2 separate regions of the Homo sapiens genome follow, and region 2 is linked to region 1. The links come from fine-mapping of genetic effects on gene expression. A gene starts in region 1. The other region holds a variant in brackets. All regions are shown on one strand. Distances are between the middles of the regions. Region 1 holds the start of ZC3H6 (zinc finger CCCH-type containing 6). Region 2 overlaps LOC124906067 (a long non-coding RNA gene).

The links. PIP is the estimated chance that this variant, and not a neighbour inherited with it, causes the effect.
Region 2: its variant is the best candidate, but not a certain one, in a credible set for the expression of ZC3H6 in lung (GTEx, PIP 0.66).

Annotation. Positions count from the first base shown.
Region 1 is chr2:112,274,423-112,277,329 of GRCh38, reverse strand. It overlaps ZC3H6 (zinc finger CCCH-type containing 6), which reads right to left and starts at 1,733. Exons shown (of 12, transcript NM_198581.3): 1 at 1,304-1,733. The coding sequence starts at 1,335. RefSeq lists a silencer at 964-1,443 and enhancers at 1,634-1,843, 1,459-2,031.
Region 2 is chr2:112,361,069-112,363,991 of GRCh38, reverse strand. All of the region lies in intron 1 of LOC124906067 (a long non-coding RNA gene), which reads right to left. Among named protein-coding and RNA genes, the nearest start is that of RGPD8, 71 kb to the left of the region's middle. The variant G/A (reference allele first, on the strand shown) is at 1,567.

The sequences.
Region 1 (2,907 bases):
TTAGTCAACCCATTCTAAGAATTTCCTTTTTAATACAAAAGATAACGTTAAAAAAATCATTAAAAATGTGCCAAGTGCAAGCTTATCATTTTTAAAAGTGCATTTTACTTTCCAAAAATTTTTACACTTTGATTGACGTGCCCTCTGGGAATCTACTTTTATTATTACAATACTGAAGTTGTTGAAATACCATTTTTATCCCTCTCAAGATTGCTAGGTATTTAGATATTTCAAATTTCAGCAGTGTTTGTGATTTTTGCTTCTGGGTTTTAAAAAACGTGTTTAGGATGCTTTACCAAGCCGATCACATTACTACAGATAAAACTTCAGCAATGTATATAGTCTATAGTAAAACGTATATTTTTTCTTACTTCTATTCACAAAGGAGTAATTGTGAGGTTCTAGATTTTCAAATTAATATTCTAAGTAAGAATCAGATGCAATGGATTTTGTTTCAGTAAGTTTAATGAATGAAAGCCCCCCTTTCGCATTATTAAAGATATATACGAATGAAAATTTGAATTATAACCAAAATTTAAGTATGCTACAGTATACTTTGTAAATGTCCCCAAACTCGAATGGAAACAAGAATGTGCCTCTTAAGGCACAGAGCAAAAAATAAAAAATCAGAATCTCAATATTCAAGTGATACACACCATCTAGAAAATTGGGCTAGCCGGAATAATCCATGGAGTTTTTACGTTAGGGTAAAACTGTGCTAAACTAAGTTTCTGCAAAGCCTAAGTATTTTGTGTTAACATATTAAACTTGAAACTTGCCATCTCAAATTCCAAGGGATAAGACTGTATACAACAGATGGCCTTTTGGTGCTGCTTAAAACTTCCCTGAAAACCAAATGTTTATTTTTTTAGAGGTGTTCTCGGTTCTCGGGAAGCAGTCAAATATCAAAACACCCATTCCTGAAAATTCCTGGCTGGTCCTATCTGGCCGGGAGCACCGACACCTGGACGGGCAGAAGCAGGACCTCAGCACCGAGCCGGGACGCTGAGAGCCGCCCGGCGCACACGGAGCCCGCCCGGGGGGCGGGGGGCTCGCACGTGCCCGGCCGGGGGCGGGGCCGGCGCTGGCGAGCAGCGACCCCGGCTCGGGGAGGCGGGCGCGGCCGGGCCGACCTCCCCCGCGGCCGCGATCCAGCAGTTTACATAAGAGTGCGCGTCATGGAACTGACGGAGCCACACAGAGACGTCTAGGTCATGCAGGAGGCGCCCGGCCCCGGCCCGCTCCCGCCGCCCCAGACCCCTCCTCTCATCCGACAGAAAGACAGACAAGAAGGGTTCCCGACCTGTCGTGCCCTGCATGTTCAGAGTCTGTCATGTTTGGTCAAGAACGGGGCGGGGCTGGAGGGCAGGTCTGCGAGGCCGGCGGCGGCGGGGCGCGGGGAAGACCCCCCGCGCCGCCTGCGGGAACCTGCTCCCGGCCGCCGCCGACAGGTGACGAAGTGGTAAAAACTCACGGTTACTAGTGAGCGACACAGACACAGACTTTCCAGTCTATTAACAACCACGCCAGAGAGATGGGGCTCTAACTGCAAACACTGGGCAACGGCCCCGCGCTGCCGGCGCTGCCGCTCTAGTCTCTATTCGCCGCCGGTGGCTGTGGCGTGGGAGCGGGCGGGCGGCGTGCAGCGACGCGGGGATTTGGACAGTGGCCGTAACGGTGATTTCTCCTCACCAACATGGCGGCACCCGAAACAGGCGGCTCGAGAAAATGGCGCCGGCCGCAACACCTTGCCCGGGACTAAAGGGCAAGAGAGATTCCTCCGCGAGCCGCGGCCCTTGCCCAGCCCGCCGGGGCCGAGCGCGTTGACCATTGGAGGAGAGTGCCCGTCAATCACCTGCAGGGGCGGGTCTTCGCCCTTCTCTGTGCAGCGGCGGAGGCGGCAGCCTAGTGGCGGGGCCGGGCGGCGAGAGACGCGGCCGGATGGCTCCTCGAGTGTCTGCAGGAGGGGGAGGCAGCCCACGGGACCTACGAGGGCCACCAGCGCTTCTGCTCCCGGCGCAGTACGGGCCGCGGTTTTTCCTGCGAGACGCCCGCCGCCCGAGGAGTTCCAGACGCACCAAGCAAACGGGCCCCAAAACCGTTAGCCGAGGCGGGCAGGGGTGGGATAACAAAGAACAAGGCGGCTGTAGAGTCCTTAAATTTTTTTGTGAAAACCTTTGTTCTTGTAATAATAGGGAAATGCAGTTTCTCCTTCACAGTTGTAGCAAGTATCTGTTTTTGTAACGTTTAGTGTTCAGAATCATGTTTTAAGGAAAATAGCTTGCCATGCAGTTTTTTCTTGTATTTGCTGTTAAATTTACCCAATTATTACTTAAATAGGAATAGCTATTGAAATAATTATATAAACGTTACTTTATTTCGTAATAATATTAACATGTAAAATGTATGCGAGTATTTTATAAATACTATTAGGCATGCCTTTTTTTTTTTTTTTTTTTTTTTTTTTTTTTTTTTTTTCTGAGATGGAGTCTCCTCTGTCGCCCAGGCTGGAGTGCAGTGTCGCGCTCTCGGCTCACTGCAACCTCTGCCTCCTGGGTTCAAGCAATTTTCCTGCCTCAGCCTCCCGAGTAGCTGGGACTGCAGGCACGCGCCACCACGCCTGGCTAATTTTTGTATTTTTAGTAGAGATGGGGTTTCCCCATTTTGGCCAGGCTGGTCTCGAACTCCTGACTTCAGGTGATCCGCCCTCCTGGGTCTCCCAAAGTGCTGGGGTTACAGCCGTGAGCCACCGCGCCCGACCATGCATGAGTTTTTTATACTTATGAAGTGACCTTAAAAAATTTTTAAATGACAAGTCAGTGTTTTGGCCTATTTAATATATTAGTCCTGAAGGAAAGTTCCTTGCTTTTTACTAAAATGATAGACTCAATGATTAATCCAAATATC
Region 2 (2,923 bases), 87 kb before region 1:
CAGTGTAAATATCACCCATTGCATAGCTTTGGCAGTGACATAAATCTGGCAGCGTAAGATCGAGAAAAGCTAGAAGTCTCACCACAGATTGTATTTCAGTGAAAGGGATTCTTTTTAAGTGCTGATAAAACTAAAGAAAACCTATAAACATGGAAAACAATTATTAAACCCACCATATGCTCATACTGCTATTAAATGGTGTGACAGATTCTAGAAAGAGTTACCTTTTGGTAAGAGCACTGCTTGTTAACTATAGTTGATTGCTTTAGATGTCTAGTGTGTATACAAAAGCATGAATTTTATTCCTTATAACCAAAGTAGAAACCTACTCTGAGCAATTTGACAAAAGGTTTACATTATTTATTTTAGTGTAGTTTAAGATTACAGTAAGATACAATTCCCAAAGAGTGAAATATAAGGCTGGGCGTGGTGGATCACGCCTGTAATCCTAACACTTTGGGAGGCTGAGGCGGGTGGATCACCTGAGGTCAGGAGTTCGAGACCAGCCTGGCCAACATGACAAAACCCCGTATCTACTAAAAATACAACAATTAGCCAGACGTGGTGGTGCGCACCTGTAATCCCAACTACTAGGGAGGCTGAGGCAGGAGAATCACTTGAACCTGGTGGGGCGGAGGCTGGAGTGAGCTGAGATCATGCCATTGCACTCCAGCCTGGGCACACTCTCAAAAAAAAAAAAAGTGCAACATAGCTTTTCACAAAATATGGAACTGTGGTAGTGTAGAACAATGTCTCAATATACCTCCTACACTAAGTATAATAGTAAATATCTGTATTTGGTGGCATAATATGTTCTTAGTATAAACCAAAAACACATGCTGAGCATTGGACATTGTCCAATGTTTAATTCATATGATTCATTCTGAGTTTCTGACTGAGATCATTCTTTCAGACTATGTCTATTTGTCCTGGGACCCATAAAATATGCAGCCCTAACATGATTTCATTTTTGTTTCCTTTCCTGGAAAAGGAGAAATCATTCAGATCAGCTTTCATATTGCCTTATAGACGATGACTTCAAAATAGTTTGAAAGGGACTCCTTTGTTCTAGAACTGCTCTAACACAGTAGCCACTAGCCACATGTGGCTATTGAAAGATTGAAATGTGGTTATTCCAAATCAGGATGTACAGTAAATATAAAATACACACCAGATTTCAAAGGCTTACATGAAAAAAGTAATGTGAAATATCTCACTAGTAGTTTTTATAGTGATTACATGTTGAAATTTTAACATTGTGAACATATTAGTTTAAATAAAATGTATTGTGAAAATTAATTCCATGTTTCTATTTACTTTTGATAAAAGTACTACTAGAGGCTGGGTGTGGTGGCTCACTCCTGTAATCCCAGCACTTTGGGAGGCTGAGGTGGGAGGATCACGAGGTCAGGAGACCGAGACCATCCTGGCTAACACGGTGAAACCCCGTCTCTACTAAAAACACAGAAAATTAGCCAGGAGTGGTGGCAGGCGCCTGTAGTCCCAGCTACTAGGGAGGCTGAGGCAGGAGAATGGCGCGAACCTGGGAGGCGGAGCTTGCAGTGA[G/A]CCGAGATCGTGCCACTGCACTCCAGCCTGGGCTTCAGAGCGAGACTCCGTCTCAGAAAAAGAAACACTACTAGCACATTTTTAAATTACTTGTAGTGATCTCATTTGTACCACATTACATTTCAATCGTATACTGCTTTTCTAAAGAGTCACTGCTAAGCCCTGAAATTAACTCCAAATACCTCCCTGGAATACAGTGCCAAGGCAGGGGCTTCCTTGAACTTCAACCTCCAAAAGTAAGCAAGAATTGAGAAATATCTTCTGCTTTGAAAAATATTCACTCCCCAACCCTAATACATCAATTACATATTATTTGGGGGCTAACTAAGCTCCTGTTTTAAAATGTAAATTGAAGAAATTAGGCCAGAGTCATTCCCATCTTAGTGCCAATCATATAATCAGATAATTAGATTGCTCTTTCCCTAAAGCCTGTTTAGTTTTCTTGTTTGCTGGTTTTGTTGTTGTTGGGTTTTTTAATTTGTTTTTGTTGTTGTTGTTGTTGTTTTGAGATGGATACTCACTGTGTCACCCAGGCTAGAGTGCAGCGGCATGATCTCTGCTCACTGCAACCTCCAACTCCTGGGTTCAAGTGATTCTCCTGCCTCAGCCTCCTGAGTAGCTGGGACTATAGGTGCATGCCACCACGCCCGTCTAATTTTTTTGTTGTTTTGTTTTTTTTTTGTTGTTTTTTTTTGTTTGTTTTGAGACAGTCTCGCTGTTTCCCAGGCTGGAGTGCAGTGGCACGATCTCGGCTCACTGCAACCTCCACTTCCGAGGTTCAAGCAATTCTCCTGCCTCAGCCTCCCAAGTGGCTGGGACTACAGGTGCATGCCATTATGCCTGGCTAATTTTTTGTATTTTTAGCAGAGATGGGGTTTCGCCATGTTGGCCAAACTGGCCTCAAACTTCTGGCCTCAGGTGATCCAGCCGTCTCAGATCAAAGTGCTGGGATTCCAGGCATGAGCCACCACTCACAGCTCGCTAAGGCCTTTTGCCAAGACAAATTAGCTCTTAGAGAACCACAGGATTCCTCTTGTAATGTATTACAAACTAAAGTCTTACCTGCTCTTGAAGAGTAGAAAACATGAAAAAGTTCTGTGTTAGCCCTTAGAATAATTAAAAATTCATAAGCTCTGAAATAAATACAGGTAATAAAGGTAATAAAATTATTGCCTATGACAAAACAAAAGTTTAAATTGGCGTTTGTAAACTCTGCACGAAAGCCAGGTTTCTCACTACTAGAAAAAGAAAAAAAGTTATAAATAAGCCAAGAATTCCAGAATGAATCCTGTGGTGCCAAATATATGTTAACTACAAGGAATAACAGTGACCTTACACTGGAAACACCTTAACCATG